Linked DNA regions of Homo sapiens: regions 1, 2, 3, 4, 5 and 6 are each linked to region 7. Evidence: fine-mapped expression QTL. A gene starts in region 7. Each other region holds a variant in brackets. All regions are shown on one strand. Distances are between the middles of the regions. Region 1 overlaps MEP1A (meprin A subunit alpha). Region 2 has its middle 19 kb from the start of MEP1A. Region 3 has its middle 4.7 kb from the start of MEP1A. Region 4 overlaps MEP1A (meprin A subunit alpha). Region 5 overlaps ADGRF5 (adhesion G protein-coupled receptor F5). Region 6 overlaps ADGRF5 (adhesion G protein-coupled receptor F5). Region 7 holds the start of PLA2G7 (phospholipase A2 group VII).

The links. PIP is the estimated chance that this variant, and not a neighbour inherited with it, causes the effect.
Region 1: its variant is fine-mapped to the expression of PLA2G7 in whole blood (TOPMed, PIP above 0.99).
Region 2: its variant is fine-mapped to the expression of PLA2G7 in whole blood (TOPMed, PIP above 0.99).
Region 3: its variant is fine-mapped to the expression of PLA2G7 in whole blood (TOPMed, PIP above 0.99).
Region 4: its variant is fine-mapped to the expression of PLA2G7 in whole blood (TOPMed, PIP above 0.99).
Region 5: its variant is fine-mapped to the expression of PLA2G7 in nucleus accumbens (GTEx, PIP 0.99).
Region 6: its variant is fine-mapped to the expression of PLA2G7 in whole blood (INTERVAL, PIP above 0.99).

What each region holds. Positions count from the first base shown.
Region 1 is chr6:46,805,170-46,809,237 of GRCh38, forward strand. The region is part of intron 5 of MEP1A (meprin A subunit alpha); the gene reads left to right. Among named protein-coding and RNA genes, the nearest start is that of MEP1A, 14 kb to the left of the region's middle. The variant C/T (reference allele first, on the strand shown) is at 2,270.
Region 2 is chr6:46,772,354-46,776,421 of GRCh38, forward strand. No RefSeq gene overlaps it. Among named protein-coding and RNA genes, the nearest start is that of MEP1A, 19 kb to the right of the region's middle. The variant T/C (reference allele first, on the strand shown) is at 1,641.
Region 3 is chr6:46,786,685-46,790,752 of GRCh38, forward strand. No RefSeq gene overlaps it. Among named protein-coding and RNA genes, the nearest start is that of MEP1A, 4.7 kb to the right of the region's middle. The variant T/C (reference allele first, on the strand shown) is at 2,099.
Region 4 is chr6:46,829,177-46,833,244 of GRCh38, forward strand. MEP1A (meprin A subunit alpha) reads left to right here. Exons shown (of 14, transcript NM_005588.3): 10 at 180-395; 11 at 3,898-4,068. Among named protein-coding and RNA genes, the nearest start is that of MEP1A, 38 kb to the left of the region's middle. The variant T/C (reference allele first, on the strand shown) is at 1,822.
Region 5 is chr6:46,862,063-46,866,130 of GRCh38, forward strand. It overlaps ADGRF5 (adhesion G protein-coupled receptor F5), which reads right to left. Exons shown (of 21, transcript NM_001098518.2): 14 at 2,980-3,135; 15 at 826-1,034. Among named protein-coding and RNA genes, the nearest start is that of ADGRF5-AS1, 39 kb to the right of the region's middle. The variant C/A (reference allele first, on the strand shown) is at 2,274.
Region 6 is chr6:46,877,436-46,881,503 of GRCh38, forward strand. It overlaps ADGRF5 (adhesion G protein-coupled receptor F5), which reads right to left. Exons shown (of 21, transcript NM_001098518.2): 8 at 4,020-4,068; 9 at 2,383-2,604; 10 at 767-970. Among named protein-coding and RNA genes, the nearest start is that of ADGRF5-AS1, 24 kb to the right of the region's middle. The variant C/A (reference allele first, on the strand shown) is at 1,876.
Region 7 is chr6:46,732,829-46,736,896 of GRCh38, forward strand. PLA2G7 (phospholipase A2 group VII) reads right to left here and starts at 2,547. Exons shown (of 12, transcript NM_005084.4): 1 at 2,352-2,547.

The sequences.
Region 1 (4,068 bases), 72 kb after region 7:
CTCTGGTGTAAATAAGAATAAAATTGCTGGGTTATAGTATAGGTGTAGGTTTAGTGTTAGACCTCTTTCAATGTGCTGGTACCATTTTATACAACCACAAACAATGTACGTGAGTTTCGTTTACTCCATGCCTTTGCTAACATTTGGTGTTGTCAATTTTTAAAGTTTTAGCCATTCTGTTGGGCATCTAGTGCTATTTTATTAATTTATTGATTTATATTTCCATTATGACTAGTAATGTTGACCTCCTTTAAAGTTACTCATTGGTCATTTGTATATCTTCCCTTATAAAATATCTGCTCTGTTAACCCATTTTAAAAATTGAGTTGTTATTTAGTATTGAGTTCTAAGTGTTCTTTATATATTTTGGATATGTCTTTTATCAGATATATATTTTGCAAATATTTTGCTCCAGATACACTGTTTCTTGTCTCCAGTGTCTGATAATAAATCATCCATCTTTCAAACTTTCATATTATTGTTCTCCTGTATGTAATGTCTTTTTTCTCTAGTTGTTTTCAATACGTTCTTTTTATTTTTGTTTTTATAACAGCTTGATTATGGTATGCTTATGCTGATTTTCTTTTTATCTATCCTGTTTGGGCTCACCAAGTTTCTTCTGTCTTTAAGGTGATTTTTAAATAACCAAATCTGAAAAACGTTAGGCCATTATTTGCTCAAATATTTTTCTGTGTTTCTCCTGTCCATCAGAGACTCTAACTGCACATATCTTAGACTGGGTGATTTTTTTCCCATTGGTCACTAAAGCGCTATTCATTTTTCTGAACATTTTTCTCTCTGTCTCTTTTACCATCGCCAGTCAGCTTTTAAAATTATCCAGTGAATTTTTTATTTTTGATATAATACTGATAGAATTTTCATTGGGTTCTTTTATATAATTCCCATTTGTCTGCTGAGATTATTTGTATGTTCATCTTTATTCCATTAAATTATGTAACAAGTATACAATAGAGATTTAAAGTGTTTGTCTGTTAAGTCTAACATTTTAGTCACCTTGGGGTCTGTTTCTCTTTCTAGTTATTGCTTTTACTAATATCTATCAATAACAATTTCCTGTTCCTTCACAGGTCTCATAATTTTTGATTATATATTAGACATTGTGTTACATTGTAGTGATTATGCGTGTTTTCATTCTCCTCTGAATTGTGTTAATTTTTGTTAGAGCAGTTAAATTACTGCATGATCATCTGGAATTTGTGGAGGATTTTGTGGTCTTGCCCTTAGTTCAAGGCAAATCTCTTAGTTCTGGAATATAGTCTTTACTGTTAAGTCATGGTCCTTCTGGGATTTCAATGGAATGCCCGAGTTTCCCCAACCCCTGTAAATTTGCATGACTCAAACTCCAAATTCTTCCTCCACTGCAGTGGGCAGCAACTGATGTATCTGTTCAGGTTGCTCAGCCTTCCAATGGCTACTACCTACTGAGGGGCTTGGAGCCTTCTCCCATTTATGCAAAGTTCATGAGTCAGACAAGGATTGAAGGGGCACTTATATACAGACTTTGGGATGAATCTCCTCTTCATCTACCATGACTTTCCTTTCTAGGACTTTCTCCCTTGATTTTCAGCCACTCGGGTTAAAACTCAGCCCCAAACTTGTCCTTGTGGTATGTTAAGAAAATGCAACTGTAGATTTATACTTGAGTTCTCTTTCTTGCATTGAAGAAATTAGAGCGTGCCCTCATGCAAAAAGCTGTATAAATGTGAATCTTACCCAATGAAATTTTCCTTCTTTTAAGAAAAAGTCCTCCAGTTTCTGCCTGTTTTAGCCATTTTCCAGCATATTTAAAGAGTTTATTTTCTTATTTTTTCAAGTTTACAACTGTTATCTGTGGGAGGATTAATTAGATTCAAGCTCCTTGACAATTTTGAGCACCAGAAATTCTCTCAAAGGAATTCCTAAACTGAATCTAGGTAGCCTTCTTATGCTTATCTTCTAATACGTACAGCCATTGGTATCTAAAATTAACTCTTCTCAAAAGAAAAAAAAAGAACAAATAAAGTTAACTCTTCTTATATTATTTGATCCAAGGTTAAAGGAATGCTAGTGGTTTTCAAAACTAACTTGTTTGACACAGAACTATGTACAACTTACTATGTCAGGGCAGTTGGCTAGGAACAAGAGTTACAATGAGACAAAAAGTATATCCCTTTCTCTCAAGGAGCTAACAGTATCTTAAGTGTAGCAAACCACCTACATAAAGACAACTCAAGCCTTGGCCACCTATAATCTCAGCACTTTGGGAAGC[C/T]GAGGCAGGAAGATCACTTGAGCCTAGGAGTTCAAGTCGAGCCTGAGCAACAAAGTGAGACCCCCATCTGAAATAAAGAAAGAAAGAAAGAAAGAAAGAAAGAAAGAAAGAAAGAAAGAAAGAAAGAAAGGAAGGAAGGAAGGAAGGAAGGAAGGAAGGAAGGAAGGAAGGAAGGAAGGAAGGAAAGAAGGAAGGAAAGGGAGAAAGGAGAGGAGGAGGAAGAGAAGAAGGAGGAGGAGGAGAAGGAGGAGGAGGAGGAGAAGGAAAAAACAAGAAGAAGAAGAGGAAAACAGAAGAAGGAGGGAAGGAAAGGAAGGAAGGAAGGGAGAAAGGAAAGAAAGAAAGAAAGAAAGAAAGAAAGAAAGAAAGAAAGAAAGAAAGAAAGAAAGAAAGAAAGAAAGGAAGAAAGGAAATAAATCAGTCAAATGTGGCTCCTGCATTCAGAGGAGGAGCACTCAGGGTTGCCTTCATGGAGAAGAGAAAGACTTCAAATGGGCTCTGTTTCCATTTATCCCAATAATGTTGAGGTAGTTTTTACAAAATTATTACAGAGTTGCTTAGTTCCCTCTTTACAGCTTATTTAGGTATGGAGAAGGAAGAAAAGGTATAATTTTAAAATTAATCACTCTCAGAAATCCCACCATTTGGATTGAGAATAACAAAAGCGAAATAGCCTTCTAGGAAGCTTGCTTTCAGTATAATCACTTTTTTTTTCTCACATTTTTGTGACACCACAGCTACCTTGGGTACATCTCTTCATATTACAGATGTAACTAAGTAAGAATAGGTAAAAGTACATGAAAATCTCCCAGCAGATGTAATGAATGCTCTTGTTATTGTTATCTGTGTAGTTTCCACAATTAGTTTATTGACTATTCCCATGACTATTTCTTTAATGATCTTGATATGACATTATATGACATTTAGGCTGTGGAGTCTCCAACTTGATAGTTTATTAAATGAAATAAAGGCCAGAAAATGTGATGTAATTTCCTGGCCAATAGATATAAACTCTTTGAGAGAAAGCACTAAATCAAATGTGCAAGAAATGTAATTTTATTTTATATAACTTGGCTTAATTTTTAACTTAGATTCTAACCTTCAATGAGTTGATGGGAGGGTAAAATGCACACAAAGTAAAACATAATCTCAGTTTCTCTGGAGTATCTTTCTTTTCTACCCCATCTTTGTCTTACAATGCCAAAGTGCATGCATGCTAGGTGAAAGGAAAGGCATTTGATCTTTGGTCATTGGTCCCCACAGGTTACTAGTCAGTATCTATTTTTCCTGCCCCTTCAAGTCCATTAGGCTTCTGCTGCTTGGGTGCTGAGCTCGGGATACAGAAATCTCTTCTAAGGCTCTGTGCAGTACTAGCTGTCTAGTCTTGCCATCTCCCAGGCATCTGGCTGGGAAGCAGGGTAAAATACCGTATGTGCTTCTTATGCTTTCAGAACCCACAAACCTCTCTAAGTTCTGCTTTCCTCCTCCAGAAAGAGAGAATGTCTTTTTAGATTGGGGTAAGGAACACTATTCTCACTGCCTCACTCTAAGGTACTTTATCTATGTCAACTAAAGCCAGAGCTACTCACAAGCCACTTCTGTTTTCTGTTCTGCCATGTGACTCTCCTGAGGCAATGCACTCTAAATCTCTGCTTCAGTGGGGGAAAGGCAAAGGGAGAAAGTGTGGAAGTTATTTTATTATTTTATTTAGCCATATACACATGTGTATATTCTTATTTTGTAGACATATTTGCATTGTGCATTTAAGGTATGCACTTAATGTTTATGCCCACAACTAA
Region 2 (4,068 bases), 40 kb after region 7:
AAAACCCTTATTTTACAGATGGGCAATCAGATGCTCAGAGAAGAAAAGTGATTTCCCCAAGCTCACATAGCGGATTTGTTGTAGAATTAGTATTTGAATTTGGGTTTTCTGTGTTCTAGTCCAGTCATCTGTCCACCGTCCCACACTCCCTCCAGAGGATTGTTCCCCCCATCTTATAAAATCACATGTAACAACTATAGGGCAATCAGGCATCACCAATAATTCCTATGCAAAAGAGCAAATTTCACTAAGAGACAGCTCAGGAATTCTCTCCCCTGCTGGCTTTGTCACTCTGTTCTCAACATTTGGGTAGTCCTAGATTCCATCAGACCAAAGGACTTTGGGGCAGAAGCCGTGAGCTCTCCAGGAATCTTGGACTTGAGGGGTACTAGAATTTTTCTCTTTGGGCACTCTGGCATGGCTTGTGGGAACATTATAAGTACAGCAGCAGTCTCTTAGCAAACCATTTCTTGTCACATGTCATTTGACAAAACCAAGGCAAAGAAGAAGCTCCCTTCCAGGATATAACTGGAGTCCCAAGGCCAGCCTGTGGCCACACATGTTCCTCTTATTGGGCCGGGGAACTCTAAATTCTTGCCACATTTGCAGAAGAGAAATCAGAGACCTTCCACCCACTAGGAACCATGTGACTGTTTAGCAACTTTGCAGCAGGGGTTCAGAAATTAGAGAGAACAGCTTCTGCTCTCTAAGTTGGCTTCCTATTTCTCGCCTGGTCACACTCAAGACACTTCTCTGGCCTTATCTAACACCCATGCACATTGTGCTAGTCTCCAAGTAAATTTAGCTACAAAGATTTTTTTTTTAATGTTCAGTACTGGAATTCCCTCAGCCATGTGACTCTGAGCCTCCTTATCAGGTTCCATGAAACTTGATGACTGCAGATCCTGAAGAATCTAAGGTAGCAAAATACTTTCCACTGAGAAGTCAAGGTTGTGTGTGAAACAGTGAAACATGAGGTCTGGCCCCTATTGCTATTATAAAAATGTTAAGCTATGTAAGCTTTTGGGATGGCTTTTCTGCCATCAGAGCAATCTGTGGAACTGGTTGCCAAGGAGCCAGCAAAGGCTAGATGAGTTCCTTTACAAAACAGTTCTATTGAAGAATAATTTACATGCCATCAAATGCTCTCATTTTAAGTGTATAACTCAATGATGTTTAGTAGACATATGGTTGTGCAACCACCACCACAAACCAATTTTAGAAGATTTTCAACACCCTAAAGAGATCTCTCCTGCCCATTAGCAATCACTCCCAGCTGCCACTCACATGCTCTGGCAGTCACTAATCGTTTTGTCTCTATAGATTTGCCTTTTCTGGACATTTCATGCAAATGAACAGATGAGTTCTTAAGAGTAGGTGTCTCAATGACTCATCTATTCAGTCATATAACAAATATACATTAGGCACACTTAATGTGCCAAGCACTGTTGTAGGTGCCAGGTGCTCACCCTAAAGTGGACAGATAGGCTAGATCCCATGCAGCTGAGAAGGCAATAAGTTAACTCACAAAAACAGTAAAGGGGGATGGAATGTGAAGGGGAGGCCCAAAGATCTCAGGAGCCCTTACCTGGAGCTCATAATGTAGTCTGAAGAATTCAGACCAGAAGAATTCAGGTCTC[T/C]TGGAGGAGGTGGTGGTATCTGAACAGAAAACTAAAAGGGAGGCTGGGTTAAGCAGAAGAAGAGGAGGAGAGAGCACACACTAGGCCAAGGAGCTGCTTTAGGAAGGCCCAGACCGAAGAGAATTTATGCCAAGTTTGAGAGACCAAAGCAAGTTTGGCAAGGCTGGAGTATGGTGTATGTGAGGGATCTGGGACAGGGAGGGGGAAGCGATGGCCCTAGTGACCCTAGAAAGCAGATGAAGCCCGGTCACAGATGCCCAGGGCATATCAGTTTGATGGTACCTTGAGGGCAATGAGAAGCCTCTGGAAGGCCTTAAGTAAAGTTGGTTGTGACATAGTGGTATTGCAAACATATTGGAACAGGGCAAAAATGCAGGCAGGGAGACCAAGTAGGAGACTTCTGGAGCAACCTAGGTAAGAGATGCTGAGAGGTGACAGCGTGCTGGCAGTCCTCACAGCCCTCGCTCACTCTCGGCGCCTCCTCTGCCTGGGCTCCCACTTTGGCGGCACTTGAGGAGCCCTTCAGCCCACCGCTGCACTGTGGGAGCCCCTTTCTGGCTGCCCAAGGCTGGAGCCCACTCCCTCAGCTTGCAGGGAGGTGTGGAGGGAGAGGCGCGAGCGGGAACCGGGGCTGCGTGCGGCGCTTGCGGGCCAGCTGGAGTTCTGGGTGGGCGTGGGCTTGGCGGGCCCCGCACTCGGAGCAGCCGGCCGGCCCTGCCGGCCCCGGGCAATGAGGGACTTAGCACCCGGGCCAGCGGCTGCGGAGGGTGTACTGGGTCCCCCAGCAGTGCCAGCCCACCGGCGCCGTGCTCGATTTCTCACCGGGCCTTGGCTGCCTTCCCGAGGGGCAGGGCTCGGGACTGCAGCCTGCCATGCCTGAGTCTTCCCCCGCCTCCGTGGGTTCCTGTGCAGCCCTGGCCTCCCCGACAAGCCCCGCCCCCTGCTCCACGGCGCCCAGTCCCATAGACCACCCAAGGGCTGAGGAGTGCGAGGGCATGGCGCGGGACCCGCAGGCAGCTCAACCTGCAGCCCCGTGCGGGATCCACTGCGTGAAGCCAGCTGGGCTCCTGAGTCTGGTGGGGACGTGGAGAATCTTTATGTCTAGCTCAGGGATTGTAAATACACCAATTGGCACTCTCTATCTAGCTCAAGGTTTATAAACACACCAATCAGCACCCTGTGTCTAGCTCAGGGTTTGTGAGTGCACCAATCTACACTCTGTATCTAGCTGCTCTGGTGGGGCCTTGGAGAACCTTTATGTCTAGCTCAAGGTTTGTAAACACACCAATCAGCACCCTGTGTCTAGCTCAGGGTTTGTGAGTGCACCAATGGACACTCTGTATCTAGCTGCTCTGGTGGGGCCTTGGAGAACCTTTGTGTCCATACTCTGTATCTAACTAATCTGATGGGGAGGTGGAGAACCTTTGTATCTAGCTCAGGGATTGTAAACGCACCAATCAGCACCCTGTCAAAACAGATCACTCGTCTCTACTAATCAGCAGGATGTGGGTGGGGCCAGATAAGAGAATAAAAGCAGGCTGCCGGAGCCAGCAGTGGCAACCCGCTCGGGTCCCCTTCCACGTTGTGGAAGTTTTGTTCTTTTGCTCTTTGCAATAAATCTTGTTACTGCTCACTCTTTGGGTCCACACTGCTTTTATGAGCTGTAACACTCACCGAAAAGGTCTGCAGCTTCACTCCTGAAGCCAGGGAGACCACGAGCCCACCGGGAGGAACGAACAAGTCCAGACGCGTTGCCTTAAGAGCTGTAACACTCACCGCGAAGGTCTGCAGCTTCATTCCTGAGCCAGCGAGACCACGAACCCACCAGAAGGGAGAAACTCCGAACACATCTGAACATCAGAAGGAACAGAGACTCCGGACACGCCGCCTTGAACTGTAACACTCACCACGAGGGGCCGTGGCTTCATTCTTGAAGTCAGTGAGACCAAGAACCCACAAATTCCAGACACAATGCCACAGGGAGGCAGCACAGTAGGTAAAGGCTTGGATTCCCAAGTCAGCCTGATCAAAGAGTTGTTGAACCTTGGTTACACTGCGTAACTTCTCTAAACTTCTCATCTGTGATTGCGGAGTATAATAATCCCTCCTCACAGGATTGTCAATGTGAGAATGAAGTGACAAGGCTTCCACAGCATTTTACACAGTGCCTGGCATCAGGTGCTCAGCAATGTGAGGTTCTGGGTGGCAGGGACCCACCACGGCCTCTCCATCTCACGCTCTGCTCAAGAAAGACTCACTGCACAGCAGCAATGTGTTAAGCACTGTGAGTGAAGATGAAGATATACTTCCTGCCATATTCATTGAGCAAGGTAAATTCTTAGGGTTTGTGTACTATGGACTCCTTTGGCTGCCTGCTGAATCTTGCAGACCACTTATCAGAATCATGTATTAAAAGCATAAAGTAAAA
Region 3 (4,068 bases), 54 kb after region 7:
GAGTAGTACTCCATGGTGACAGTATTCTGTTGTGTATTTTATTCTAGTAGAATTTTATTGGAATATATGAATATATCACAGCTTGTTCATCTGTTTACCTGTTGACCCACCTTTACTTTGGGATCTACTAAAACGCTGGTGGGTACTTGCCTCCCCCATCTTTATGTAATCTTTATGAGGGCAGTGACAGTGTCTGTCTGGGCCACGACTGTTTCCCCAGTGCCTAATACAATGTTCAGCACAGGGGAGGCACTCAGTAAAGATTTTATGAATGAATGCATGAATGAATGAACACATGCGTCAATACATTGGTTTAGCTAATCAACTGAGAATGGAGACTGACCTATGAAAAGAACACATTATTAGCTAATTTCTCTATTTTGACCTTTTTCAGGTTCTGAGCACTAGACTAAGCTCAGTCTTTCATAAACTGAGAGAAACAATTCTTATCTTATGTGATTATTGTGAGTATTAAATGAGATAACCTATGTAAGACACTTTACACAGTGCCTGCCATGTAATAAGCACCTAATAACTTCTCTGGGTATTATAATAATTGCTATTATTTTAATAAGAACAAATGCTATTCAAGCTATGGAACTTTGATGGGGGTTGGCAAACTCCTGTTCCCAGAAATTCAACTGAAAAACCAAGGTGTAGCTATTAAAAGCTTTCTTCCTTTCCTGGTATGTAAAGAAATGTAACACTTCTACTCACAGGTCATCGGTGACTGACACTCTGGCTTGCATGTTTGTGCAAAGCTGTCCTTATTAGTGTAATATGTGACATTGTTTTAGAAAGTGGCTGCCATTGCAGTCTTCACACTCCCATCATTGGCAATTAGAAGGTAAATTTATATTTTAAAATTTGATTCAGAATATGAGTATAATCTCACCTGCTACCAATTCAGGAAGCCTCCTTTGCCAGTCTGTCAACTTTGATCGATTATTCTGAGAATTTCCAAAAATGCCCCCAATAGGCCTCCTATCACCTTCCCCTTGTTACTTCAACTGACATTCCTGTTAAAGTGGCAGATAATGCAATTGGCCCTAAACAGAGCTGTTGTCCACTTGCATAAAAGAATCAGCTGCACCAAAAACAATTTTGCCATTTTCAAAGGGAAATGGGATTACAGATACTATTTATTTTCTTAAATGGCTAAACCTCCTGTTGTCTGGATCAAGTTCCATGTGTAACTTACTATCATCTTGCTTCCATTAAAAGACCTCAAAACTGAATGACTTTTCTAGGACAAACAAAAAATCCCCAAACCAAGCCCTACCCATTCTTTCTCCAATACCACCCCTATCTGAAGAATTGTATCTGTCTGTGGCTGCCTCACACCCAGCCTGCAGCCATGGCACTATTTTCTATGACTAACATTGTCTCCCTTCTTAAAATACTTTAGGATCCAAGAATCCTCAGATGCCCTGGAAGGTCTTCACAGCTAACGATCAAGTGTCCCTTTTGCAATTTAAGCCTGTTTCCTTGTACCCTTATTTCAGAAGCAGTAGAAAAACTTCTTCATAGGAATCACATTTCCTTTCAGAGAAAAGTCCAGCTCAATTGTGTCTTCCCTTCACTCAACAATTTCCATGTGTTAAGTATTCTCTCCCAGATGTCACAGTCCAACTAGGCCGCGTGAGCAGCGATAATCCCTCTAATTAGCAGAGGTTGGAGACTTTTCCTGAAATCAGGGGACAATCTTGTAGCTCATAGCTGAGTTGGCTTCAGTTTAAATACTTTATGAGGGTTCGATAAGTAGAAAGAGAATTGGGAAAACATAAAGTAAGCTGCTTGTCTGATTCTTCCTTGTGTCATAAGAGAAAGATAACAATGTGTTCTTTGGGTTCTATAAAAGAGAAAAGGCTGGAACCAAATCCATTGAATGCCCACCTGGCCCTAAAGAGTGGCTTATTAGGGTCCTCAGTGCCCAGCTGAGTAAGAAGTACCCCTTGCCTCACCAATTGGGATTGGTGTCTGTACACACTCCAAAACACAGTTGCCTGCCCAGGTCAGCAGGTCTCACATTTTCCATATAGAAATAACCCCCAAGCTTGTTAAAAATGCAGGTCCTCAAACCACACTGCAGAGGGGC[T/C]GTTTCCTGGAGGCCTTCTGAAATGGACTTCTGTGTTGATGATCTCTCGAATTCTTAACATCTGATGTATTCCCTATTAGGAAACTGAAGGTTCTATGATCTTTTGATTTTCTTATACAAAGGGAATCAGAGGAAAGCTATTCGATAACCACAGTGAGAGTGGAAGCATCTGACTGATGCAAATTCCACAGTGTCCTGTTCATCAAAGTGTGTTCCACAGACTACCTGCATCAGAGTCACAAGGGTGCTTATTAAAAATGCAGATCTCTGGAACTCACCATTTGACGTGAGTCAGGATTTCCAAATTCCAAGCCAAGAAATTTGTACCTCAACAAACCATCCAGAGGATTTTGAAGGAATCTATAGCTTGGGAACTGTTTCCCTCAGGGTTAATTCTTCTTAGTAAACTGTTAGAGATGGAACCCTGTGAAACCAGGGGTCTGCATGCTACAGCATAATGGTGGAGGCCTCACTCCTGGGCTGTCAAAGGCCAGACATAGGTGTAAAGAACTGCCTCTCAGGTGGAATTTAGGAGCATTGTTCAGGATCTGCATGACCTTGAGAAGGTTCCTTAATTTTTCTTCATCTCAGTTTCTTAATATATAAAATGGAGATAATAATAGTTGCTTCTTCGTAGGATTGTTGTGAGGATTGAATGGATAATTACCCTTAGATACTTGGAATACTGCCTGGCCCACAGTAAGTACTATGTACATGTTGGTTGCTGCTACTGCTTCTGTTATAATTATTATCACCGTCTCAATTTCCACCACCTTGAGGGTTATTCTCTAAAACCCAGGGGTCAGCAAACTATGACCCTTTGCTTTGTTTTTGTGAATAAAGTTTTATTGGAACACAGCCATGTTCACACCTTTACATTATTGTCTACAGCTACTTTATGCTACATACAACAGGAGAGTTACATAGCTACAACAGGGCTCATATGGCCCACAATGCTTGACATATATCTCTTTGCCCTTTACAGACAGTTTGCCGACTCTTGCTCTATACACCTTTGGGCCCCTGTTAATATGTTGATTGCCCTGGGAGGAACAAGGACTGTTGTGTTTCAGGTTAGCTGACAGCTGGTTGAAGGCAGAACTCTGTGAGTGAAGCAGAAGGAATCAGCATCTTGCAATAGAGTAGAAAGAGGGCAGAGAACATCCTTGAGAAGGGTTTGGGGTGAGAGGACTTTGCAAGTCTCTTAGCCCAACTCCTTGCCTGAGCTTTTATGAAGCTGGAGAGTGTGTGGAAATAGCTGGGGGCGGGTTTTTCCATTTTCTACCTGTCAATGGCTTTCTTCCTCTAAGCTTCAGACCACTTTCTCAACTGGTCAGTTTATGAAATGCCCTTCCTGAGATCAAAGCAAGTCACCCCATCCGATACCTTCAGAGAAATTTCTATTTACTTTTTTCAGTTAAAATGAGAACTAATTACCTACTATGTTTCCAAACACTGGGGCAAATACAGGAAATAAAGCATGGACCTTGACCACAGAGTGCATAATCTTCTTTAAACTGAAAAGCCATAAACCCTTCAAATGAAGGACTTAAGGCCCCAGCCTTACTCATTTGATACCCTGACACAATGAAGAAGTGACTAGGATTGCAAATAGCTGGTAACTAATTAACATCTGCCATTAAGATTGTGACAATAAAATAATTGGGGGCAAGTTGTGTCTGCTGAAGACCTATGTTCTCATCACTGGAGATTCTACTGAGCAAGGAGTGGGCTGAGCTGTGTTTTTAGTGCCCATGTTTTGCTAGGAGGCAGTTGCTAACTAGCAGGTAGAAGGAGCAGTTTATTGAGTGCTTCCTATGTTTCTAGTAGCTGTGGTTTACATATGTTATCTCATTGAATCTTTACATTGGCCCCATGAAGTAGGCACCACTATCCATTCTACACATAAAAAGCAGGTACTAAAATTACTGTAGCTAGTCAATGGTAGAGGTGGAGTTCCTGCTTATCTG
Region 4 (4,068 bases), 96 kb after region 7:
AAGTCCATTGAGACAGAGAATATTTACTGACAAATGTCCTTCTTTTTATTTTCCTCCGAAGAGTTCTAGTTTTTGTTGCCTGGACAATGGCTGTGGTTCACTATTTCACTTTGTTTGGGTGGACAGAACCCTGGGGTGTGGGAAGCCAGACGTGTGATGTTTGGCTGCTCTTTCCATAGGTGCCGGCTACTTCATGCAGTTCAGCACCAGCTCGGGGTCCGCGGAAGAGGCAGCCCTACTGGAGTCTCGGATTCTTTACCCAAAGAGGAAGCAGCAGTGCCTGCAATTTTTCTATAAAATGACGGGAAGTCCTTCAGACAGACTCGTTGTCTGGGTCAGGAGGGATGACAGCACAGGCAATGTTCGCAAGTTGGTGAAGGTGCAGACTTTTCAAGGTACTTAGAGGCATTCACACGAGGAATGGATTGGGTTAAAATCCGGGATCCTGCTTCTTCTCCTCCTTCCCTCTTTCCTCCTACTCCTCCTTCTTCTCTCTCCTCCTCCTTTTCCTCCACCCACTTTCTTCTCTTCTCAGAGCCTATCATAATATATGGCATGTTTTAATTACTCTATGAATGTTTTAACCACTGAGAAATTAGAAGCAGTATCTTGGGCTTAGGTAGGGATGAAATATACTTTTGTAAGAAGCCAATCAGAATATACAAATCCAGTTTTCACTGGAAATTTAGAGAAAGCAAAGGCCAAGACTGAGAAAATGGATGGTTCAGGAGTGGAGATAAGAAGGTAAAAGACCTGTGCGAATTGATGCTGCGGGAGAGAGAGTAGTTAAATAGTTGACCAGCTCACGCCTGGAATCCCAGCACTTTGGGAGGCCGAGGCGGCCTTGTGGATCACAAGGTCAGGAGATTGAGATCATCCTGGCCAGCATGGTGAAACCCCGTCTCTACTAAAAATGCAAAAATTAGCTGGGCATGGTGGCGCGCGCGCATGTAGTCCCAGCTACTTGAGAGGTTGAGGCAGGAGAATTGCTGGAACCCGGGAGGCGGAGGTTGCAGTGAGCCAAGATTGCACCACTGCACTCCAGGCTGGTGACAGAGCAAGACTCCATCTAAAAAAAAAAAAAAAAAAAAAAAAAAAAAAAAAATTGACCAAAGTGTTTTGCATCTGTTTCAGAAAAACAAATGATACCATTATTTAATATGCTGAAGTAACTTGAAGCCTACTTGTGAAGTTGGTGGCAAATAAGTCATTGGTATATGTTAACTTCCTATAATCACTAACATGTTCCTAAGTGTCACTTTGTATATTTATATAAGAAGGTCAGCATGTAAATGATTATAGATGGAGAAATTTTTGTTGAAAAGTAAGAAAGCCTGTCTCCCTTTTCCTAGTTATGAATGAACCACCACCATAACAAAAGAAAGCAAATACTTTGTTTATAACCCTGGATCTTGATTTATGGCCAGATTATCCTAGCATCCAACTGCCTACCTTAGCATTTAATTTATCAATTGAAATGAGTCCAGGGAAAGGAATTATTTTTTATATATCTGCTGCTCTTGAAGAAGAAACCTTCCTTAGAGGTCACTTGTAAGAACAGGTGCCCAAATCGCCTATATCCAAGCCACTCTGTGGGCTGCCTGGGAACTCTACAAATCACAGTTTTGAGGGGTTCACTTTTCTGGTTGAAATTTATTATAGTTTATATGATAAAAGGATGACAGCTAGATACTCTTTAAGAGTTGAGGATGTGTTATGTTACCAAGGATTGTAAATATTTAATGAGAAAATGAGTTAGAGTTTCAATAATATTGATGGGACCTATTATCACTCACTTTCATCTAAAGCTAAAAGCGTTAC[T/C]TCTAAGCATAAAATCAATCAAGCAAACATCCTATGCTTAATTTAGTTTCTTACACTGCTGTGCTTTGTGTTTCATTGAATTCAGAGTATGCCTGTGTACGTTCCCTGGGAACACTGTATGAAAGGTTTTTTTAAGTAGTCTGTTCTGATACTGGTTTGTCAATGAAACTTTTCAAAAAGGTTAGTTGAATATCACTTAGTGTTGTTTATGTGATATTCAACTTAAGACAGTCGCAACCAATTTGAATAGCTTTTAAGTTTTGCAAAATGTATATTTTGACCAAAACACTTACACACAAAATGTCTCCATATGCATATCTGTATATAATATATGTTACATACATAATGCTTATATACAAACTTACATGAAAAATGTTGGCATACAACTATGTGTATGTACACACACATGCACACACACACGTTTTTACTGAGGCCAGGACTTCCTTATAGAAGACAATTCTGAACTAACAGGGATTAAATTTGTCTCAAACAATCGTAGTAGCATTATTGCCTGACTGATTTAGGGCAGCCCTGTGGAAGCATGTAAACGAAACCATCTTAATAATTTCATAGATGAATTTCTGCCTATGTGGTATAGCCTCTTGGGTCTCCTTCCCAGTGCCAGATTCCCCCATCTCAACCTCATTTTGACATCCTATATTAAGAAAAAACAAAGCAGGTACTAATCAGCAAGAACAGAATCCTATTCTCTTGACAGAATTCCCATGATCTATAACCTGCTGGATAAATAGTTCAAATCCTATATCTCTGTTCCTATTCCTAGACTTTCTGGCACCTATTACCCTTCAAGTCCATGTGTCTTCCACTAGGCTGCCATGCTCTCCGCAGGAGAGGGCAGCTGCCTAGATTTGTATGTTACAGAGGTGGTCGTGTGCCTTCTCTACCTCTCTCCTGTGTTCCCATGTAACCTACCTCTCTCCTGTGTTCCCATGTAACCTAACCACACAGGCCATAATCAGCTCCACCCTAAGAAACAGAACATTGTTAGACCTGTCCCTTGAAGTTGTACTTAGAGAGAATGGCCTGAAAACACAAGGGAGATTAAAGGTCTTTTCCTTTTCAGGGAAAGTATAGTTCTATAAGTAGATATCTGGTTAAAAGACACAGAAGAAGGAAAAAAGACACTCATCTGTAGGAACTCAGTTTAGCCAACATGACTTCCACTTGGAAGCATTTTTCCTCTCCTCTTCAAGCCCAACTCTAGGGAATACCCTGTGCAAAAATATCAGTGTAGGCACATCTCTTTGCGGAATTGAGTTGCTTTGCTTTCGCAGTTTCCTCTCTCCAGTACCCCCAAGCTCCTGTCTGGCTTCTTATACTGTTCAACCCAGGATCCTATGTTCTAGAACGGCCTTCTCACCATCTTTCCTCAGCTCTTAATTCGAAAGTCCCACTTCTAGTTCATGCTCAGAGAAAAAGCAAGTAGACCTAATCTTTATTAGAACGTGCATTTCCAGACAATAGTACTCTATTTGGCTTACTTTGCTCCCCTACATGGTGGACTTTCAGATAATATAAGGAAGAGAAAAAAGTCTAGATGTTGGAGAGGGAGTCAGTTTTAGGTAGGGAAGATCCAGTCAGTCCTACAGGTTATTATCTGCTCTTCAGCATTCCTTATAGCTCTCTGGCAACAAGTGACAGGTCGGACCATATGGAGTTACTATTTTTTTTACTTTTGGCTTAGAAAATGGCTATTTTATATGATTCAGCCTAACACTTGGGTTTTCTTTGCTAACCTTAGGGGTTACAGTTGAACCAGCCAACTCAGGAGGAAATCCAGAACCTGGATTCTTATAGTGGAAAACAAATTCACGGTTAAGATTTGAATGTGAATTTTAAAATAAATCATAGTATTTTAAAAAACAATTTTTCCTTATTAGGTATGTAACTTTGGAAAAGTTACTTAACCAGTTTATAACAGTACCTATTTTATAGGGCTGTTGTGAGGATTTAATGAGATAATTTATGGAAAGCACATGGCACTGTGCCAAACTCATAATAAGTACTCATTAAGTGTTGGTCACAGTTCTCACCAGCCTTGTTCTCTGTCCTCAGGAGATGATGACCACAATTGGAAAATTGCCCATGTGGTGCTCAAAGAGGAACAGAAGTTTCGCTACCTTTTCCAGGGCACAAAAGGCGACCCTCAGAACTCAACTGGGGGAATTTACCTAGATGACATCACTCTGACAGAAACCCCCTGCCCCACAGGGGTCTGGACAGTCC
Region 5 (4,068 bases), 130 kb after region 7:
CATGCTTTGCACATAGTAGAGATTTTAATAAATTTGGTGTGAGACAAGAGAAGAGATAGAAGTTAATTAGATGAAACACATATAAGTATTACCCTTTTTTTCAATTATTTACCCAGTGGTGAGAGGATTTGGAATTGGTTGTCTGAAGATGTCATCATTACCTATAACCTCACCAGTTGCATCACCAGAATTTTTTAATGTAATTCATGGAATTTTAGGAGTCTAACAACAAATCAAGTGTGGAGGTCCCATTTTTTTACATTGACAGAAGGAAAGGAACTTCTGCCCTGTTACATAGCGGTAACCTCTATTATAGGTAAGAGAGGCAGGGTAGTTGCTTCTTCAAAAGCACAAGTTACTTCCAAGTAGTCAGAAAATTTCATACCTGTAAGAGCATCAAGCCCAGCTATTTTTTTTAAAGAAATTGATGAAGCTTGTTTTTTTATATTGCTCCTTTTTCTGAAAGGATTATAGCAATTTTCTTGGTATCAAAATTACTCAAAGGAGAGCAATAAGAGAGAGGATAATACCGCTGCCCCCTGGAGGTATGGAACACATGGTACTGAGAAGTCAAGGTTAAGGTATCTAGTCGGTCTGAGAGCAGAACACATACTTAGTTGTCTTAGTATTTGAATTGAGGCTTTTTTTTTTTTTTTTTTTTTTTTTTGCATTTCTAGGGTTGCATCTCCTTTGGAAATACACAAATAAAAGTAGTTTTGGAGCAACACAAAGCAGCACCAAACCCATTTTCCTAAGTGCTGAGAAATATGATCAGCCAGATAGATCGCCCCACCAAGAGCTCAGAGTGGAAGCTTTAAGGATCACCTTAGCCATCTGGAGCAGACTGTTTATTGGGGCAGAGATGCAGTCATTTCTCTTCTCCTCCCACTGGGAGCCTACACATTTGTAAGTGATGGTCCCGCCAATGGGACTCTCAGGGCTGCTGGGAACGTTTGAGAACCGGCATAGCTTCTGGATGACTTTCCCCGGCTCTCCGACACCTATTACGGGATCCTGGCATGTGATGTTTTCCCCTGTGTTGGAAACATTGAAATAAAGGGATAATTGCAAGGAAGAGACAATATAGTAGAAATACGGTCAGGCCAAGGTAGAATTTTGATGTTTGAATTCACATTTACCTTTACTTTCCGTCACCTTTTCAGAACTACCCAATTTCTTAATTTTGCCCTTGATTTTCCAAAGCCCCTCTCTGCTTTCCACATGAACCTGACTTCTGTAATCGGAACTTCCTTTTCCTAACAGAATTTTATACCTTCATCTGGAGATTCTCAACTGTGACATATTAGAATCATCTGGGAAGCTTTTGAAAACACCAGTGTCTGGGCTAAGTAAATCGGAATCGTCAGAGCGGGATTTAGGCATCAGCAGGTTTTTAAGCCTCCCTGGTGATTCCAGTGTGCTGTCAAGGTTGAGAATCACTGCCATAATCCAAAGACATAATTGCTAGTAGGAACTCTAGGTACCCATGACCTGAATATTCTAATCAATATGTTTAAGCATTTGTTCCTTCTGGTTTCCCTTAGAGGTGATTCTATTTCACCTCTTCTCATGACCAGGCAAGGATGGGGAAATGACACTTGCTGTGGAATCTCTCATGTCCAGTGGACCCTGACTCTGATGAGACCCCTCCCTCACCAACACTTTTCTTTAACATTAAGATCTTAACCACTGTATATAAATCTTAAATAAGTAATGTTCTACTAGGAAAAAGAAGCGAAACCATATTTGGTATAAAGAAAGAGGAGAAGAACAAAGATAAGTGAATAAAATGTGTTGGCTAAGATGAGTGATGGGGAAAAGAAGAGGTGACCTTTGCTGCACCCTGGAGGGGTTGTACTTGTGCGTGGAAAGGTCAGGTGAAAGTGACTCTAAATTGTTTCCTGTTTTGGTGCCCAGGGGCTAGTTGCCAACATGTGAGAATGACCACAAACTATTCAGTAAACTCAAACAATCTTGGTGATAACGATCCTTTGTCTATCACAAGTCCTGTTGCTGGGAAGATTTAAGAGGATGAGGAGTTGCTTATGGTAGAAGCCCAGGGTCATCATTTACCCCTTGTCTTAACATAAGATTCTCCCTTAAGATGACCTTGTATTAGGATGATCTATCCTTCCCTGCTGCTGAGGGGAGCTCCCCAACATGGGCTAGCATAGCAATGACTCTGTAAAACATGAACTTTCACCTCAAAGATATTATGTGATGGCAAATTGACTCAGTGGTGGCAAAGGATGGGAAAGGCAGCTGCCTATTCT[C/A]GAGATTAATTGTTTTCATGTAGCCTTGTCTCAGAAAAACAGTGCAGTGTGGACACCTTTCATTTGCTGAAACCCCAAAGGACCTCAACCACATTGATACTGTCCACTTCTAATCACCTGGTAAACTCCTTTAGCAGAGCTAAGCCACCCACAACATTTCTATTTAGCTCTTACTGTATTACATGTAATAATTTTTTTTTTTTTTTTTTGAGACGGAATCTCTCTGTCGCCCAGCCTGGAGTGCAGTGGCACGATCTTGGCTCACTGCAACCTCCGCCTCCTGGGTTCAAGCGATTCTTCCGCCTCAGCCTCCCGAGCAGCTGGGACCGCAGGTGCATGCTCCCATGCCTGGCTAATTTTTTGTAGTTTTAGTAGAGACGAGGTTTCACCGTGTTAGCCAGGATGGTCTTGATCTCCTGACCTCGTGATCTGCCCACCTCGGCCTCCCAAAGTGCTGGGATTATAGGCGTGAGCCACCGCACCCGGCCAATAACATTTTTTTATCACATAGATTTCTTCCCTAGGCTTGAGGCCAGGGGACATGGCTTATTTCTTTTCTTTTAAATACCACTATGGTGAGCCCAGGGCCTACCACAGTGAGGGTATTTAACATATGTTTATTGAATGGGGATGAATGAGGGAGTGAATAAATAAATAAGTCCCTGCCCTGACTATAACATCTTAAAGTAATTTAAAACGTTCTTACCAGGAACCAGATTCAGCTTCATAGATGGGCTCCAGACTGAATTATTAGCAGCATTGGTAAAGTGACAACACACATCAACAGTTTTTGAACACCAGGAAACTGAGCTTGCATTGAAATTGTGTTTGTAGCACACTTGTTTTTTGTTAACTTCTTTTGCTGAAGACAGAATTATTGAAAGAATTAAGTCACAACATGAGTCTCTAATGCACAAATTGTGTTAAGATAACCTAATATGAATAAACCTGTCCAAGCTTTCCCGAGGAATGTGCCACATTCATTTTTAACAGGTTTTACCTCTGGGTTTTGAAGTATGTAAGCCCACATTTGCATGTGTGCTAGTCAAAACTTCTCCTCTACCATTCATGACTCCAAGTCACACATTTTTGACATTCAGAATGCCTTTTCAGCATTCCACAAATCCTTCTCCCTATCTAAATTTCATCATGCTCTGAGCATTTATCCTATTCTGCCTTTACCATATTGGTATATAGTCACCTATTCATGAGTTTGTCTTCTCTACTAGACCATACGCTCCTGGAGAGAAAGTACCTTGTCTTATTTATCTTTCCATCTCCTGGTGCTCAGCTCAGTATCTGGTGCATAGAAAGCACTGAATGTATGCATATTAAACACAGAATGTTGAAATGCTGCATATGTCAAAATCCAGATTGATTATATCCCTCTGCCATGCAGCCTTCTTTAAAGACTACAGTGTTTATTGAGTCCCCACTTTTCTGAACTTCTACTGTTTTTTTAGTCTGTATTATTCTATTTGGATATTTTATATTATATGCATTGCCTTTCAGGGCATGGGCCCTTCTAGATATTAAAATATGTGCCCCACTTCTTTTTTCTCCCTTTCATTGCCTACTATGGTGTCTTGCGTTGAGTAAGCCCTCCAGAATAGTTATTGAAAAAATGAATGAGCTTGTAAATCCCTCATGAAGTTGTCTGTGTTTTGAGATTTTTGGGTTGTGAGATCATGCTGGTTGACCTTAATCTCTGGGAATCCCTAGGGATCTGGATTAAGGGCACCATCTACCAGAGAGACTTTGATTTTTTTTTCTTTTTTTGCTGGTTGACATAGGG
Region 6 (4,068 bases), 140 kb after region 7:
AACCTCAATTTCCTTATTTGCAAATTGGAAGTAAAATGCTTCAAATTTGTGGTCAAGCAATTTAAAAGCAGTAACATATTTTTTAAAGGGTTAATCATAAACTGTTATACAAAACAGAGTCAGTATTGCTGTTTTAATTTATTACCATTATTATTATTCATCAATATAAACTGGAGGGTGGGGAACTTTAGGTAAGATTTCAGATTGAAAACAAAAGCTAACAGGATCAGAAATCATATGAAATGACTGAGAGACAAACAGGTCTGCAGAGAGAGAGGGATAAAGCTGGAGGCACAGAGATAGAAAATATTGAGGTATGCATAGATACAAAGGCAGAGAAGTGAGAAGGACCAGACACCAGGAGAAGAGACACAGAAAGGAGAAGCTCCAAGTCAGACCTCAATGACAAATGACCTCATCCTTAGCTCTTTGCTGAAGATGAAAGGAAGGTGAGCACAAGCTTTTCTTGTCTTTTTTTAGATCCAAAATGCCATCGACCTAAGTCATCGGGATCCTAATTTCTTGGGTCTTCTGCTGCTGGGATCTCATCTACAACCAAAGCACGACACTTGTGTGCATATATTTTTGGGGTCTTGTTCTAGAGTGGCTAAGCTGGAGCTGGCATCAAACCTAATGCCTTTTCACAGTCTGAAATCCAGAAAATAACAGCCATCTGACATTTCCCCTTCCATACGCCACATCTCCCATTTCTACTTGGCCAAGAGGCAAAAACCTATTTGCAAAAGGGCTTATCTAACATTCTCACCTGGAATATTTATTTTTCCTTCCTGCTTCCATTCTACTTTGCTCCAATTAACATTACCCTGACTGCAGCAGTTCAAAGATACAGGATTGTTGTCGCACATCACCTTCATTTCTTCATTTGCCAAAATTTGGATGGGCATAACATCTATTTTCTTCTTGCACTCATATTCAAAAATGTCTAATATCAGTTTGCAAACATATTCACCTGCATAAAATACACAAAATCATGTATTATTATAACACATGTGTATTTTCTTAGAGGAATGTACCGTCAGCTCATGGATCATGACAGTACTTCATGAAGTATCATTTTCAAAAGCATCTGAGACTTGGTCTAAAGACGCCTAAAAAACCATTCAGGAATTCAGGAAGTGCAGATATTTCTCATGCCACAAAGTGGAGTACAGAGATGTTCTAAGGAAATAGTAGAAATTTTAGGGACTTTTCTAATAAGAAAAAAAGTATAACAATAGAAGAAGTAGAAAAGAAAAATCGAAAAGCCTTGGAGAATTAGAAAAAGATGGGTAATATTGCCGTAGTATTTAACCATGTTGTAAATCAAAATCAACAACTATGTGATAGGACCCATATGTCTATAGCCCACCTCATCATGCAGAGAAAAGAAGATGGCCCCATTGGCATCTGAGTTACAATGCGGCTATTACATTCCAGAATATGTCAGGTTCACCACTAGTCTTAGGGAAGAATTAAGCCTTATGCTTGCTTCTGTAGTTGCTTGGAGCGGGCAAGAGGACAGGAGAAAGCCGAAGAGAGGGATAACAGTGGAGAACCAGAAAATTTGGTGAGGGCAGGGAGAACGATGGATACGTTCACTCTCTTGATTGTAGTAATGATTTCACAGGTGCACGTGTGTCAAGACTTTTTAAATATGTACAGTTTATTATATATCAATTCCTTCCTCAACAAAGCTATTTTAAATTTTTTTAAAAATCAATTGAAAATTAAATTAATAATAAAGTAATATTATATACTAAAACAAAATAATGAAAATAATTATATTATATACTATAATAAAACAAATAATGAAAATAATGAATTTTAAAATTAATTAACAATTAATACCACGGTGATATGATTTGGCTCTGTGTC[C/A]CCTCCCAAATCTCATGTCGAATTATAATCTGCACATGTTCAGGCAGGGCCCTGGTGGTAGGTGATTTTCTCATGGGGGCAGTTTCCCCCATGCTGTTCTCATGATAGGGAGTGAGTTCTCATGAGATCTGATGGTTTAAAACCAGATGTTTGACAATTCCCCAGACCCTCTCTCCCTCTCCTGCTGCCATGCAAGACATGCCTTGCTTCCCCTTTGCCTTCTGCCATGATTGTAAGTTTCCTGAGGCCTCCCCAACCATGCAGAACTGTGAGTCAATTAAACCTTTTTTCTTCATAAATTACCCAATCTCAGGTAGTTCTTTACAGCAGTGTAAAAATGGACTAATACATATCGGATTAATTTTCAGTTTTGAAAGGTTGAACCAGGAGACTTATTTTGGAAGAGAAAAACACTATCTACATAGCTACGTAAAACACTATTACATATTTGCTTCTTTATAAGCTCTTCATTCCATTCCTCACACAAGTTACTGAATGGAGACCTACCTGCATCACCTGGAGTGATGTTGTGGATGGTGAGCTTGGACACCGAAGTCATGTTGTTGAAAAGTGCGGTGTAAATCGAGAATCTGCTGCTGTTCTGGATTTCCAACTGCTGTTCTTCATAGCGCCAAGACACATTGGAGGACAAAACTTCCTTTTCACACACCAGACTGACTGTGTCCCCTTCAAAGATGATTTCTGGTGTGACAAAGAAATTGCTTTCATCTGGAAACCCAAAGAAAAGTTAATAAGATCCCAAAGCAAATAAATGTCACTGATGCTACTCACCACACACAACCACCACAAGGCTCTTGGAGATCTTGACAGCATCTGTGGTGCTGAACTGGCTGAGGCAATGTGTCTCCTCACTCCATTCCCATGCAGCTGGTGTCTGAGCCCTGAGGAGGTATGTCCTGCCACATGCCAGGGACAGGGTTTCCCGACTGGGGTGTTTGCCCTATGGCTCCTTAACGGCAGTAATGGAGATTTTAAAGCTATTTTCAATATTTCAAAAAGTGTGGTAGAAAATTGCACATTTTTTTATAAAAAAAAAACAAACTTAAATACCAAGTTTCTGTGCTACACACTGGAATAATATCAACTGCTTCTTATCAGTAACCAATATCTCAAGCTTATTGAAAGCTCTGACCTAAGTCTTGAAGGATTTAGAAATGTAAAAACAAATTAATTAATTATAATAAAGTCTGCTTGAGAAATAAGAATTTCCTAATACTCATGGACCTCTTTAAGAGTGGGAGCTTTATAGACAGTAAGTTTGGATTTGAATCCTGGTTCTGTCCCACCCATAGCTGTGTGGCCCTGAGGAACTTGCTTAGTCTGGCCGAGCCTTAGTTCCACTGTCTGGAAAACAGGAGCAGCAAGAGAGAGTTACATTGGGAGGTGACTTGGAGAAACTGTAGCTCTTATTATTGTTTTGGCAGTAAAAATCCATGGGATCACTGCCTTATCATTTCACAAATAAAAATAAAAACACAGCCAGGCATGGTGGCTCATGCCTGTAATCCCAACACTTTGGGAGGCTAAGGTGGGAGGTTTGCTTGGGGCCAGGAGTATGAGACCAGCCTGGGCAACATAGTGAGGTCCCATCTCTACAAAAAATAATAAAAAAAAAAATGTTAGCTGAGTATGGAGGTGTGCACCTGTGGCCCCAGCTACCCTAGAGGCTGAAGCAGGAGGATCGCTTGAGCAAGGAAAGTAGAGGCTGTAGAGAGCCATGATTACACTATTGCACTCCAGCCGGGATGACAGAGGGCTGCACTCTGAGGCCTACTGCTCTAAAACAATGGCCCTCTATTTCTTATTGGTGCATTTTGTGAATATTTAAACCTCCACTGTGATATTAGTTTTACTTTTTTTACTTAGTTTTGGATCTGTTATACACAAACCCAGATGGCTCTGTGGCCCCCTTGTAAATCCCTGTGCCCCTTTTCCACACACCCCAGGTACAGTGGCATTAGTCAGATTGGGAGGCACTGGCATAAGAGGAGGAGGTGGTACAGAACCCCCTGTGCCAGGAACTGGAGTGTCTAGCTTCCCAGAGGACATTGTAGCATAAACTAATTTCCTAGGTTTACGCATAACCATAAATAACATGACCATATCTAAACAATTTCACTTACTGATAGTAACTGCTTGAAAGGAGTTGTAGTCCATTTTGTAGGTCTGATT
Region 7 (4,068 bases):
CCAGAATCATATTCTGAAACAATACAATTTTAGAACTGAATGTTTCTCTTCAATTTCCCTTCACTCAGTACTTTCTCTTCAATGCTTTTATTTTATGGAAATTTCTCAACATCTTGAGACGTCAGTCAGGCTTATTATCACGAATCTTGAAAAAAAATTAGGCTTAAGAGGAATCAGAGTGTAAATAATCCAATATCCACCTTCCTTTCCAGGAAATAGCCATCTTCTTGGGTATCAGGAAAAGGAAGATAAAGGGGACTCCTAAACTGACTTTCCCAGGGGCTCCCACTCCAGCTGCTCAGGTACCCAGTTAGCACTTTTCTTAATGTTCTGTGCTGACAGAGCTTCAAAGAGTGTGGTAAGTCATATTCATGTGCAAAGGTGAGAGTGAGGGAATGTGTTTAGGCCCATGTATGTTCCTCACAACAAAAGTGCAAAGGGGACAGAGACACAATGGAGAGGAAATGAGGACCCAGCTGTCCCAGGTTCTGTCTGAGGGAAAAGTCCTGCGGTGCTAAGCAAGCCCTTCCACACCTCAGAAGGGATTTCTCAACTGTAAAATGAGTGGCTGAACCAGATTCACAACACTCCTAATGCTGCAACTCCTTCAGTCTTGCTGGCTGTACAGTAGGCAGTCACAGACTATGGTGCCAGCCTTGGGTATGAAGGGCCCAGTTCAATGAAGAAAGACATTGAGACATCACCACATGGCCAGCAGCAGCTTCTGGTGCACAAATATCTGGGGAGGGGAAAGCACTTTCAGTGCCCAAGTGCAAGGAGCTGAAGTAGGCCTGCTGGAAAATGCCAAGGTGGTGCGCTGTCTCACCACTTTCTGCAGGGCCAGCAGAATTCCTCTGTGAGGGAATCTGCCTGGGTGATGGAGGCTCACCAGTGCCTCGTGACCAGAAGGCCATCTGCTTCTTCTTGATCAGGCCAGTGCTTAATGCTCAGATCTCTGAATTCAATGTAAGCTCAAGGTTTCGTGCTGAGCCTCTTGGGATTGCCAACACCTCAGGGGATACATTTTCCAGCTCCTACCCATATACCAGTCTCCCAGCTCAGCATTCTCATTTGGATCAAAAGTAATTTGTGCAAGCCTGATTTGTTAACACATCCCAAATCTGAATCCGTGTGCCTTTTAAAGGTGGCAAGCTGCCATTTATGAGCCATACGCACCTCTCCTTCCTCATCACCACTGCAGTAATCCCAAGAACCACAGGCATGAATAAAAGCCCGAACTTTTCGTTTTTGGTGACAGAAATTTCTCTTACAAGCTCCAGGAGATGATGAGGAAGACAGTGTTCTCTGTTTTCTGATTTTGCTTAATTTTTTAAAAATGAGCCTCTCCCTTGACTTGGTGACACAGCTGTGATCTTATCTGGCCGGCAGGGGGATGCTCCAGGTAGGACAAAGAGTGCTTTGTTTTGTTCTTACAGCAGCCACGCATAACTGGGCTCCAAAAACGCAATACTCCTCAAAGGGAGAGTGAGAGAGAGGGAGAGAGGGAGAAGGGTGTGTGAGAGAGAGAGCGGAGGGAGAGAGAGAGAGGAGGCAGAGTGAGAGGTGTGTAGTGGTGTGTGTGTGTGTGAGAGAGAGAGAGAGAGAGAGAGAGAGAGAGAGAGAGAGAGAGAGAGAGAGAGAGAGAGAGAGAGAGAGAGAGAGACGGAGAGAGAGATTGTCCCTGTAGGAGATCTACAGATAAGAAAACTCCGGGGCGGGCGCGGTGGCTCATGCCTGTAATCCCAGCATTTTGGGAGGCGGAGGCGGGCGAATCACGAGGTCAGGAGATCGAGACCATTGTGGCGAACACAGCGAAACCCCGTCTCTACTAAAAATTCAAAAAAATTAGCCGAGCGTGATACGGCACGCCAGCAGTCCCAGCTACTCGGGAAGTTGAGGCAGGAGAATTGCTTGAACCCGGGAGACAGAGGTTGCAGTGAGTCGAGATCGCGCCTCTGCACTCCAGCCTGGCGACAAAATGAGACTCCGCCTCAAAAGAAAGAAAGAAGGAACGAAAGAAAGAGAGAGAGAGAGAAAAAAAAGAAAAGAAAACTCCATGTGTTCCCTGCCTGTCCTGATTCTCCCCCCAGCTCTGAGCTCTTAGGGTTGCTTCCTTTCGGGAAAAGGTTTGGAAGAACTGGTGTCTAATACCGTCATCCTCTCCCTCTCCCCGCAAGGATCCTAGCGCTGTTTCCGAGGGCTGCAGGGACTGTGAGCCCAGGACCGGCCAGCAGAGCGGGTGCGACTCAGCGAGCCCACCCCGGCCGGTCGCCGCTCCGGGGTCCCGACCTCCAGCGCGGCGACCGTGCCCTTCCTCCCACTCCCGCCTCGCCCCCGGGGCCCCTCCTCACTCAGGCGCGGCGCGGAGCTGCTCGCGGGAACTGGGGTCCCTGGGCGCGTTCCACCGCGCACCAACGCGACCCAAGCGCTCCAAACCCGACTGCTTCTCGCCGACAGCACTGCGAGCCTCCGACCAGCCGCTGTCCCCCTGGCTGCGGGCCGAGCAGCTCTGGCAGGCGGCGGGCGGGTGGGCTGCGCGCGGGCTGTGTCCTGGGTCCGCCTAGCGCGGCCTTGTGGCCCCGACCCTCTCCTCCCCTGGTGATGCTGGAGGAGGTACCGGGGAGGAGCGTGTGTGGCCCCGGCCTCTCACTAGCAGCGGCGGCTCCCGACGCTAGCCTGCTCGAGCGCACCCAGCACCCTCCCCAAGACCATGGCCCGCACCTGGACCCGCGGTTAACTTAGCCCGCCGCGGAGAGAGCCAGGCAATGCCTGGGTGGTGTCGTGCTCACCAGCTCCTTTCCGCAGACCTGATGCCGATCAGATTTACTCCCTGCTGAATTCACCCCCCAGTCAGGCCGGTTTTCCTTGTTTCACCGTGTTCTCTGAATACACTGAATTACTCCGAGCATCTATAGTTGGCAATGCCCTGCGCATTTTCCGCACTCCGATACACTTTACACTGAACACCAATTCGGAAGTTGTGTGGACCGTGCTCCAGATTGGAAGGCCTGCCACTGTGCTGGTGTCATTTCTCCCTGGAAATGACAATGAAGGACAATCAGGAATAGCACTTAGGTCTGAGGAGAAATGGAGCTAGAAGGAGCCGTTTCATAGCTCAGTGTAACACAGAGTTATTTGGGGTTTAACTGAAACGCCTTCCTTCATCTTCCAATGTTTTCTCTTCAATCCACTTTCTAATAAATTAAAAACACACTCATTTAAAACTTCAGCTAGAAACTTAGGGAAAGTAGTTTGAAATTTATGTGTGGTGTTATTAAAATTTTATATTTTTAAATCGTGTTTTGGTTTTTGGTGAGGTGCCAGAACTGGAGATGAAATTTTGCTTATTTTGATTTTGAGTATTCTGCAGTAAGATGGCCTGAATTTTAGCTTGTTTCTCCCACTTATGAGTGGTGTGACCTTGGGGAAGTTCATCATCTCTGCTTCTCGGTCTCCTCATCCATAAAATCAAGAAAATCAAAATCAGTCAGTCAGAGGCAGTTTGTGAGCACGAAATGCAAATACATGTGAAATGCTTGGGACAGAGCTTGGCCTATGGGAAACATTCATTCAATATGTGTTATCTAATATTGATAGCTTAATGAAGCAGTGACTCATTTAAACCTAACAATAGATTTTATTTTTAATTTAAATGGAACTCTATCCGCCTAATGACATTGTCTTGTACTTCCTGGACTAACCCCCTGTAAAACAAATGGCCCACAAATATCAATCTAAAAGGATACATTATGCCCTACCAAAGACATCTCTAACGTCTTCTTTTGACCTTAAGACAAAGGTGAAGACAAAGTTGAAGTTGAAGACCTAATCCCACACTAAAAAGGTGGTAAGCTTTGAGAACAGCTCCTGAAAACAAGTATGCAACATTTTATTCACTTCTCTCATTGCCAGCAACATGTCATCTCCCATTGTCATTAGGTCATATTCTCTGAGCAGCCCCACAGCAGTTGGCATTTGGCAGGTTAGTGCCCTGAGAAGATGCCCAGTGAAGAGTGCCCAGATTTAGCAAATAAAAATGCAGAACATCTGGTGAAATTTGAATGTCAG